2 separate regions of the Homo sapiens genome follow, and region 2 is linked to region 1. The links come from fine-mapping of genetic effects on gene expression. A gene starts in region 1. The other region holds a variant in brackets. All regions are shown on one strand. Distances are between the middles of the regions. Region 1 holds the start of MASP1 (MBL associated serine protease 1). Region 2 has its middle 24 kb from the start of RTP1.

Region 1 (5,384 bases):
AAATTATTCCAGGAGGCCTAATTGCTCTGTGACACTTTCCAAGGAGAAGCTGATGGCTTTCTCGCCCAAGCTCTTCCCTCTGTACCCAGAACAAATGACTGCAGTTCCCAGTATATGCCCTAAATTAGGAGAGGGCAAACTCCGTGGCAGCATGAATTGAGGGAATGTCTTTACTGGGCAGGGGCCCTCTTCCCAGCACAGTGTGCATTTTGCCAAGCTCTTTCTCCTTCAGTTTTAAAACCCTTGTGTATTCCAAGAGAAATGTCGTCCATGTGTTTCTGATTCATTTACACGTAAATCATTAAAATGTTGTTTTGTGAGAGTTATTTAATGTGTGCGGAGCCTGTGAGTCTTCTTAACGGGAATGTTAAAAGCTTTTTTTCCTGTGCTGACTGAGACAGAACACATTTTGCTAAAACAGTGCCTGAGTTCAAACATATCCTCCCATCTCATATACTTGTACCTGCTTTATCAACCACAGCCTCTTGATAATGCCAAGCTTGGCAAGGCTGGCATTCAAAAGTGTGAAAATTAGAGAAACTGGAGAGAAAATGGAGTAAGAAGTACAGTGAGAGTCAAGCCACTGTTCCCCAGAACGTGCCAAAGGAACGTTATCTGAGGGTAGACAGTGCATGTGTCTGCCGCTTTGGTGAGTGTGGCTGGCAGCCCTCTCTCTGGTACTCCCCTGGACACTTCTACAAGCACAGTCTTATTTAAGCCTCATAGTAACTCCCATTTTCCAAATGAAGACACAGAATCAGATACCTTAAGTATTGTGCCCAAAGTACACAGCTGTCTTGGGTAGAAAGGAAAGATTACAGCTAAACTCTGAGTCTAATCTTCTTTTCAAAATGACTCAGATTGAGTTTCTCTATGAATGCCGTCTGTGTGTGTGCATTTGAAATTCCATATGCATTATAAAATGTTAATGAGTAGCAGTGTAATACAGTGGCTAACACTTCAAATTCTGCCTCTATTACTTTCTAGCTGTGTGAACTTGGGAAAGTTACTTAACCTCTCTGGGCAATTTCCTCTGAAAAATGAGAATATTGCCAGCCATGTATACAACATATAAAGATGACTGAAAAGAATTCATATATTAAGTGCTTAGAGCAGTGCCTGACACGTAGCACTCAATAGCTGTTAGCTTCTAGTGCTAGTGGCAGTGGGGAGTCATAAATAACTGGATGATCTTGGCAAGTGGCATATTCTCTCTGAGCCTTAGTGTCCTCACTTGTAAAATGAGTATAACAGCAGCACTTTCACCAGTTTGCAAAAGTAACTTGAGATGATGTTAATGACTAGTACTGTGTCTAACACAGAAAAGGTGCACAGTCAAACTTAACTTTTACACCCAGATACACCTCTCCCTATTCAGTGTTGGTTGTTGTTGTTGTGGAGGGGGTAATTTTCTTATTATTCAGCTCATCTTAGATCTAGTGTTGATTTCTCCGGAAGCCATGGGTATAGACATATATACAGGCCCAGGTCTTTCTACACCCCTGGGGAGGTGAGATTTCTTGCTGCGATGGGCCCTTTCTGGGCTGGAGTAGAGCCGCACACACTCCGAGCAAGTAAACAGTGCCACAGGTATTGCTCATGGGGAGGAACAACCAGCCAACTTCAGGACTTGGTGCTTCCCCAGTTCCGGGCCCGTGGCTCTGTTCACAGGAAAACCTGTCGTTGTGTGTGACTCTGATCACGAGAAAACCTGTAGTTATTTGGGGCTCTGCTCACAAGGAAACCTGTAGTTATTTGCAGACAGACGCTCTGGGATTTAGACCTTTTTTTTTTCTTCTAGTGTAGGTGCTAGAATTGCCTTCTTAGTTGGTTGTTTCTATTTAATTGCTTTTCTTTCATGGGTGTCCTGAAGAAAAGCAGAAAATTATAGTCATCTGGCAAAAAAGACTAAAGAGAAATTAGACTTTGTCCCCTTTCACTCTCTCTCTCTCTCTCTCTCTACACACACACACACACACACACACACACACACAGAGTGATACAAATACCTGCTTGAGCCCCTCAGTTATTTTCTCTCAAGGGCTGAAGTCAGCCACACAGGATAAAGGAGGGAAGGGAAGGAGCAGATCTTTTCGGTAGGAAGACAGATTTTGTTGTCAGGTTCCTGGGAGTGCAAGAGCAAGTCAAAGGAGAGAGAGAGGAGAGAGGAAAAGCCAGAGGGAGAGAGGGGGAGAGGGGATCTGTTGCAGGCAGGGGAAGGCGTGACCTGAATGGAGAATGCCAGCCAATTCCAGAGACACACAGGGACCTCAGAACAAAGATAAGGCATCACGGACACCACACCGGGCACGAGCTCACAGGCAAGTCAAGCTGGGAGGACCAAGGCCGGGCAGCCGGGAGCACCCAAGGCAGGAAAATGAGGTACGTGCCAGGGGAGGAGAGGGCACGGTTCCCTTTTGGGGACCAGTGTCAAATAGCAGGGAAGGTCTGACCTTGTCACTGACAGACTCACCTGCGTGTCCTGCATGTGGTAGTGAGGGGCTTTCTCATCAATTCTTAGGGCTCTGAGAAGGGAGCTGTGGGTGGGCTGGGTGCCTTCCCCAGGACTCCAGGAGACATAAAACTTGAAACGGGAGACTTCGTGCAAATCCTGCTCCGGACGCTGCTGAAGCTCAGATTTCTCCCACTGCCTGCACAGGGTGCTGCCTGCTGGCGAATGTGACTCTCCTCCTGTTCACCCACAAGGCTGATTTTTCCGTGTTCCTCCTCTGGAAAGAGCATTGCTTTCTCTCTTCCAGCACTTTGTGAGTTAGATATGTGTTTGTGTGTTCATTCCTTCTGACCAGAAAAGAAACCAGCTTCCCATAGCTTGGCTCTGTGGTTTCTTCAACCTTTACAAGTTTGCCAGTTAAACCTCAATTTAGAAAACTAAAAATCTGTCCCCATTTTACAGTTCCCTATAAATTTTCTGCATTTCTCATTGAAATCAGAGGCAGCTGGTGGCATGAATCAGGCTATGAAGTACACCAAATGGCTCTTAAAGAGATATCATACTTAAAAAAAAAAAAAGGATTTTAGAGTTCTGAAATCAAGAACTTCAAATTCTAATTGGTTTTAAACTCTTTAACCTTTCTTATTCCTCATTATACTTGACACTCCTTACCAGACCTTTCATACAAGTTCTATCCTGCAAGTCTGAAAACCCAACCACCCTAGTTATTTTTATTAGTTAAGTGTTAATGCTGTTACACACACACACACACACACACACACACACAATGCTCTGCAGATGTGTAAGTCCCTAAACACATCTTTTACTATTAATTTTCTTTTCACTTGGGAAAGTGTTTTTATTTGTTTCTCTTCTGCAAAGTAACCTAGCAACTTTTCTGGACCTGAGACCAATGAGAGGCTTCAGACTATGTTAACTCTTTGAACTCCGATTACCTGTGGTTCAGAGAGATAACCAGGTCCTTAAAAAGTGAGTGCAATAATTCTGTTCTTCTTAAAGCCATAGTAATTTTAAACCTGCCATTAAACATCATTTTTCTTTCTCCAAAAAAAAGTGATTTATGTCAATCTACATTGAATGATAATCTCATTTATCTGTCAATGATCTGGTCTGAATCCCACCCTACCATTCAGTGCCCCAGCCCATATCAAACTACTTGGCTGAGTAACAATTCTGTATCTTTGCATATGCTCATCCCTCAACCTGGAGCAACCTTCTTCTTTATTTTCCACCTAGAAGACCTGATTGTTCAAGCTGGCACAAATATCTCTTTCTCTCTCCTGACCACCATATTCCAGAGTGAGCATCCCCTCCTTTGTCCTTTGTTCTGTTTCTGTCCCTTGAAGCTGCATCTCTTATTGTCCTTGTAGTATCCCCTTGTTTAAATGTCCACCTCCCCTTACAAGTCTCAGCACTCCTTAAGTTACATGATCTATGTCTTCATCTTTGTATGGCCAGCACCTAGCATAATGTCTATTTCCTACCAGCCATTCAATACCTATTTGTTGAATTGAATTCAATTTTTGAATAGCCAAGCAACTACGAGAAAGGTGCTCTGCTAGAAAAGTCTCCAGCAGGTCTTGTCTCACATGGATACAGTATTTCAGTGTTTGCAGAGCACTTTCAAGAGCACTGTCTCATGGGGGTTTCAGATTCTGGATGAAGTAAGGATTTATGGATAAGTAGTGGGTATAAAAGCAGTTAAGCAACTTGCCCAAACCACACTGATGATCATGAAAAGGTCCAGATTCAAATTTGGGTCTTCGGGCTCCAAGTTCAGGATTTTTTCTACTATATTCCACTAGACTTTCAGCCAAGTGTATTATTCTAAACTGACGGCTCATAATTCTGACTGTACGTCGGAATGATCTGTGCTGCCTTGAAACATGCCAGTGCTCAGGCCTCACCCCAGAGCAATTAAACCAGAACCTCCTGAGGAGGGACTTTGGCATTAATATTTTTAAATTTTTTACGTAAAGCCATGGGTTTTTCAATTATTTTTCACAGGATTAATTGCTTTGGCCAGATGCCTGGGCATGATATGGGCATGGACCCAGCTTCTTCTGTGAGCTCTTTTTATTCCCTTCTTCTGTTGAAGTTAATTCACCATATGGTATTGAGCATGATGTGACATCTCTTGGGGTATCCTTTTCATCGTCTGTCAAATTAGGGTGCTCTGTAAAGGATCCATGCAGTCCCTTCCAACTCTTCAATTCAAAAATGGAGTCTTGGTGTGGAGTGGGTTGAAACAAGGGGCGTGTACGGACAGTGTATGGAAAAGATAGCAAGTGCCGTTCATGCCGCAATCATAGATATATGCAGGCATTTTTACAGAGTCCTGCTAGCCTGTTCCTACGGGGGGCCTCTGAAATCTCAGCTCTATATATTACTTTTGACATTTCTGCAATGTAGCTAAACTTTTTGATTAGCCGGAGGATAGATAGCAGGTGTTGGGAACTATACAGCCGGTGCCTCGTATACAAGAAGCCAAAAACATTCAGAGAGTGTGACGAGGAATGAAAGCTGCCACTTATATTCTTCAATTTACAGCCCCTAACGCAAGCAGGCAAGCATATGCTCAAGCCCATTACATGAAGGGAGATATTTGTTTCATATGTTTGAAACCGTTTTGAGATGCAAACAAAGTAGAAGGGAAAGCTTCCTGGGCCTTCCTCCCACGCTGACCAGTTGCCTACCACACATGGCACCGGGCTTCTGGGCTACACAGGGCTGTCTGCTGCCAGTCCTTGACAGAACCGGCCTCAGGAGGCTCAGTGTCTCCTCGATGTGGTCTGGAAAAAGCAGTCATGGAGGAAGTTGACCTTTCGGCCTTGCATAATTTGGGTGTCGCTATTATAGGGAAGTCCGGTTTAGGAGCCAAAGCTCATTCCTGACTCTTGCTTTTTGGGAA
Region 2 (5,384 bases), 120 kb after region 1:
ATCTCCTGGTGGTATCCCCAAACTGCCACTCTTAACTCTTGAAGTAAATAAATAATCTTTGCTGGCAGGACTATGCTGAATCTCCTTAGGCACTCTCTAATCAGATATCCTGAGTCGTCCCAATTCTTAGACCTTTTATACCTGTTTTTCTCCTTCTGTTATTCCATTTAGTTTCTCAATTAATCCAAAACCATATTCAGGCCATCACCAATCATTCTATACGACAAATGTTTCTTCTAACATCCCCACAATATCACCCCTTACCACAAGACCTCCCTTCAGCTTAATCTCTCCCACTCTAGGTTCCCACGCCACCCCTAATCCCGCTTGAAGCAGCCCTGACAAACATCGCCCATTCTCTCTCCATATCACCCCCCAAAAATTTTCGCCGCCCCAACACTTCAACACTATTTTGTTTTATTTTTCTTATTCATATAAGAAGGCAGGAATGTCAGTCAGGCCTCTGAGCCCAAGCCAAGCCATCGCATCCCCTGTGACTTGCACTTATATGCCCAGATGGCCTGAAGTAACTGAAGAATCACAAAAGAAGTGAATATGCCCTGCCCCACCTTAACTGATGACATTCCACCACAAAAGAAGTGTAAATGGTCGGTCCTTGCCTTAAGTGATGACATTACCTTGTGAAAGTCCTTTTCCTGGCTCATCCTGGCTCAAAAAGCACCCCCCACTGAGCACCTTGCGACCCCCACTCCTGCCCGCCAGAGAACAAGCCCCCTTTGACTGTAATTTTCCTTTACCTACCCAAATCCTATAAAACGGCCCCACCCTTATCTCGCTTCGCTGACTCTCTTTTCAGACTCAGCCCGCCTGCACCCAGGTGAAATAAACAGCCATGTTGCTCATACAAAGCCTGTTTGGTGGTCTCTTCACACAGATGCGCGTGAAAACTATGTTCAGCTGATTTTTGTATTCTTAGTAGAGACAGGGTTTCACCATGTTGGTCAGGCTGGTTTCGAACTCCTGACCTCAGGTGATCCACCCACCTCGGCCTCCCAAAGTGCTGGGATTACAGGCGTGAGCCACCACACTCAGCCATGCCTAGGCTGTTTTTACATCTCATGCTGGGAGGAAACTGACAGACCCTACTGCTGTTTTCCTCCCACCCCAGACAACTGCTTTGTTCAGTGGTTGTGGCGAGTTAGAAACCGGGGATGGCATGGCCTAGAGAGAGGAATAGGGGGAGGGGAGTGTCAAATCTGCTATTTGACATCGTCATGACCAGCCTTGCCATTTTGTTTCACAGGTCAAAGTGAGTGTTATCGCCCGAAAGTTTGTCATTCGAAGCTCCTCCATGTCTCACTTAGTGAGAATTTTTCCAGACATTGGCAAGTGGTCTGTTGCCATCTTTAATTCTCAATGCTGTGGCAAAATGTGTTTTTACGGCCTGGTGTGGTAGCTCATGCCTGTAATCCTAGCACTTTGGGAGGCCAAGGCAGGTGGATTGCCTAAGCTCAGGAGTTCGAGACCAGCCTGGGCAACATGCTGAAACCCCGTCTCTACTAAAATACAAAAAGTTAGCCAGGCGTGGTGGCATGCACCTGTAATCCCAGCTACTCGGGAGGCTGAGGCAGAAGAATTGCTAGAACCCGGGAGGTGGAGGTTGCAGTGAGTCGAGATCAGGCCACTGCACTCCAGCCTGGGTGACAGAGCGAGACTCCATCTCTTAAAAAAAAAAAAAAATGTGCTTTTACGCATTTCGGTGGGAAGTAGAGATGGAATATCAAGGATGGTTAGAATGATGGTACATTCCCATGTTTTAAAAAGAGACGGTTGGCAGCCCGGAGTCTGGACTGAAATGAGGAGAAACAGTAAAGTGGCTTTTTGAAGGCCATAACTGAGGCAGGAGAATGGCTTGAACCCGGCAGGTGGAGGTTGCAGTGAGCCAAGATCGCGCCACTGCACTCCAGCCAAGGCAACAGAGCAAGACTCTGTCAAAAAAAAAAAACAAAAACTTTCACTTTGGAGTGAGGCAGACAAAGCTGACTCCACCACTTAACTGGGCCTGTAACTTTCAAGGAGTTGGTATCCTCTAACGCCTTATTCCCTCTTTTGGCTGCTGGAGGGAGGCAGGTAATTATTGCTATCTCCCAGGGTTCTTATGAGGATAAAGGAGATAAATATATGGAAATTTTACATTTACTCTTAAAACCTTGAGGTGAAACCACAGCAGTGAGCAGGAAAAGAGGGAGCTGCCCTCAGGGCAAATGCTAATATCAACACAACAATCCAGAGCTGGACTTTGAGCAGAGGGAGAGCAGAATCAACTCAGGTTCCCGGATTATGCCTGACACAAGGAAAGGGATTAAAGGAATTGCAGGTCTGTAGCTGTCCAAGGCTGTTGCAAACACAAGCCCAAATCTTCTCTGGAAGAAAGAATCCTGAATTCAGCAACAAGGTTTTCCACAGACTGAAATAAACTAAATCAAGGATTACAAAACCCTTCTCTCAGGGAATGCATTTCCAGTCAGCTCTCAACGCCATCAGGGACTTGGCCCAGAAGGCTTCTTTCCAGTGAATGAATTCTGTGCACGGCAGGATCTG[T/G]CTTCTCCTCGGGCTTTGATCTGGGGCAACCTGACCTCAGTTTCTCCTTAGAGGGCAGCCATGCTTGCTAACATTTTGATGCCCCGGACTATTCTGTTTAGCTAATGCATTGGCTTTGCTAACAATCAGATTTTACTTTCTGTTGCTATGGGTTTTTTTCTTCTTTTTTAGATATTTTGCCTGTGATCTATATAATTTTATGCCAGAAGACTTGGACTCAAGCATTAAGATGTAAGTGGACATCTGGTGTGACTCAGTCTTGCCTTGTAGGTCTGCTTATAATTAGAAAGAGGCATACCTACATTATAGGGATATGGGTGGGCTTCAGTTAGTACACAGGCTACAGCATTTATATTAATTCATACATAACTTATTTCACACCAACAGCCAACTTAAATCTCAGTATTGTATTATCTGTAAACTCTCAGGTGTTTTCATTATGAAGACTTGATGCCCTATGGAAGTCACAGTCCATATAGATCAGTCTCTATGTGGTGTCATGTTCAAGATACACAGTATAAGAGCCAGAAAAGCAATTATAGAAGAATTTTATTAACTTGCTTTTCCAAAAGAAGATGAGAGTGGATCAGACTCACAAGTTGTAGCAACACTTCTCATATTCCTATGTCTCTTCCCCTCTACTTCTTCCCTTCTGTGTCCCCCAGCACCTTTCGTTTGCTGCCTCCCCCTCTCCACCATGTTGTTCACCTTCAGCCTCCCTCGCCTCCACTTTTCTCACCTCCTATCCCTCCAACTTTCTCCCTGGGTCATTCTCCCTGCCATAAAATCCTTCTTGATCCATTCTTACAAAAGTCTGTAGAGACTGGTCTAGCAATGACAAATGTAGGGAGTGAGGGATGAGAAAAGCATGTGGAAGAGTGGGGAAAGGTCCATCCAGCAATTGCATTCACTTTGGTGGAGTGGGGGGAAAAGGGAAATTTGTGGATAATCCCTGATGAATATTAATTTTTATAACAGAGTCTTATGCCTATAAAAGATAGATATTTATATAATTATAAATGTATGTTACTTAGTGCTTCATATTATTATTATAATAAATATTAAAAGTAATTTATGCCCCAATGTTCTTTTTATAAAAAAGTTTAAAGTAGCTTTCAAAGATGCATACAACATAATAATATGTTCTATTTTTAAAACAGTCAAAAATATCTAACAAAATAATACATGCATTTCCCTTTGACCCAGCAATCCTATGTCTAGAAATTTATGCCTAACATATGTTGACAAAAACAGAAAATGATATACACAAATCGCTATTCAGTACTATGTTGTTTGTAGCAGTCGGAATTGGAAACAACCTAAACTGTACGGCATACCTTACCTATGGTAAGATACAAGAGGAATAAAATATGAAACACCACCCAGTAAAGAACTATGGAGCTAAACAAAAGAATGAGGATAATCTCTATAAACCATTATGGAGTGATATCCAGGATAGCCTCTCAACTAAAAAACAAAAAAAGGAAAAGAAAAAACCAAGGGGCAGAACTGTATATAAAGATTGCTACCTTTCCTCGAAGGATGAAAGATACATATTTGACTATATTAAAAATAAATGGAAAGATAAGTTAAAAACTAAGGAATATTATTGTTCACTGGGGAGGAGGGAACAGGGTAGAGGAGACACAGGTAGAACACAGATATTTCTAAATGTGCTTTGTTGTGTTGTGTTGTTTTGGGTCCATGTTATTTTTTACATAATTATAAAACAAAAAAATTGAATTTTTAAAAATTCTGAAAACTTGGGGAAAAAATTAACCTAACATTATGAAATCTGTGGCTTACTCAATGGTGAATTATTTCAAATGACTTTAAAACATAATAATTTGACTGTTTCCATATATCTCATGGAGGCTGAAGTGTGGGGATGGGGAGTAATTACAGTGTTATTATTTTTATTTTAATAGGGTAAGTAACACATTGTATTAGTGCTTCTATTAATGTTACTGGGAACCAAGATTTTTATGGTAATCAAAAAGAGATTGGAAATACATAAAATCTAAGATGGTAAATAAAAATTCCTATTATCTGAATTTGAATTGGAAATATAAGTATTATATCATAATGAAATTGTATTGCCCATAAAAATTATGAACTTCCTAACTTTGTCTATTACACAGACCTGAAAGAAATAAATCATCAATCCATTAGCAACAAGTACCTCTCAGCACCTGGATCACCAAAAGTGATCAGAACTTTCTGGAAAAATAATTCCTTCAGATATAAGTCAATAAATGTATAAAATGAGCCTGGAATATTTTCTTGTACCAGATTTCAAAAATTCCTATTGTCATGTCAAAAGACAAAAGGCAAATGAAACTAACCTGAAGAAGCTTTCACTGGCCAAAAACAAAATAATTGGATCATCAAAAAGAATAATGGCCACAATTCATTGAAGTACATCAAATATGCTAAAAATCCATAAATTAATAATGATATTTTAAATAAAAAAAACCAACTATTTATTTCAAAAATAGGCAAGGGAAAAATATTACATATTTATCTTGGCTTCCTTATGTAATCTGCATTTTGTGATAACCAAATAATAGTTGAGGGGAAGCTATTCTTTAGAGAAGAATTACAATTAATAAAAGAAAAGGGGCCGAGGCGCAGTGGTTCACACCTGTAATCTCAGCACTTTGGGAGGCCAAGTAGGGAGATCACTTGAGGTCAGGAGTTTGAGACCAGCCTGTCCAATGTGGTGAAACCCCATCTCTACTAAAAATACAAAAAAATCAGCTGGGCCTGGTGGAGCACACTGGTAATCCCAGCTACTCGCGAAGCTGAGGCATGAGAATTAC

Evidence for each region. PIP is the estimated chance that this variant, and not a neighbour inherited with it, causes the effect. A credible set is the group of variants that fine-mapping cannot tell apart.
Region 2: its variant is the best candidate, but not a certain one, in a credible set for the expression of MASP1 in caudate (GTEx, PIP 0.88).

The regions. Positions count from the first base shown.
Region 1 is chr3:187,288,626-187,294,009 of GRCh38, reverse strand. It overlaps MASP1 (MBL associated serine protease 1), which reads left to right and starts at 2,273. Exons shown (of 11, transcript NM_139125.4): 1 at 2,273-2,382. The coding sequence starts at 2,378. It overlaps LOC101929130 (a long non-coding RNA gene), which reads right to left and starts at 2,738. Exons shown (of 2, transcript NR_135551.1): 1 at 2,474-2,738.
Region 2 is chr3:187,171,025-187,176,408 of GRCh38, reverse strand. No RefSeq gene overlaps it. Among named protein-coding and RNA genes, the nearest start is that of RTP1, 24 kb to the left of the region's middle. RefSeq lists enhancers at 1-514, 515-1,346, 5,065-5,384. The variant T/G (reference allele first, on the strand shown) is at 2,563.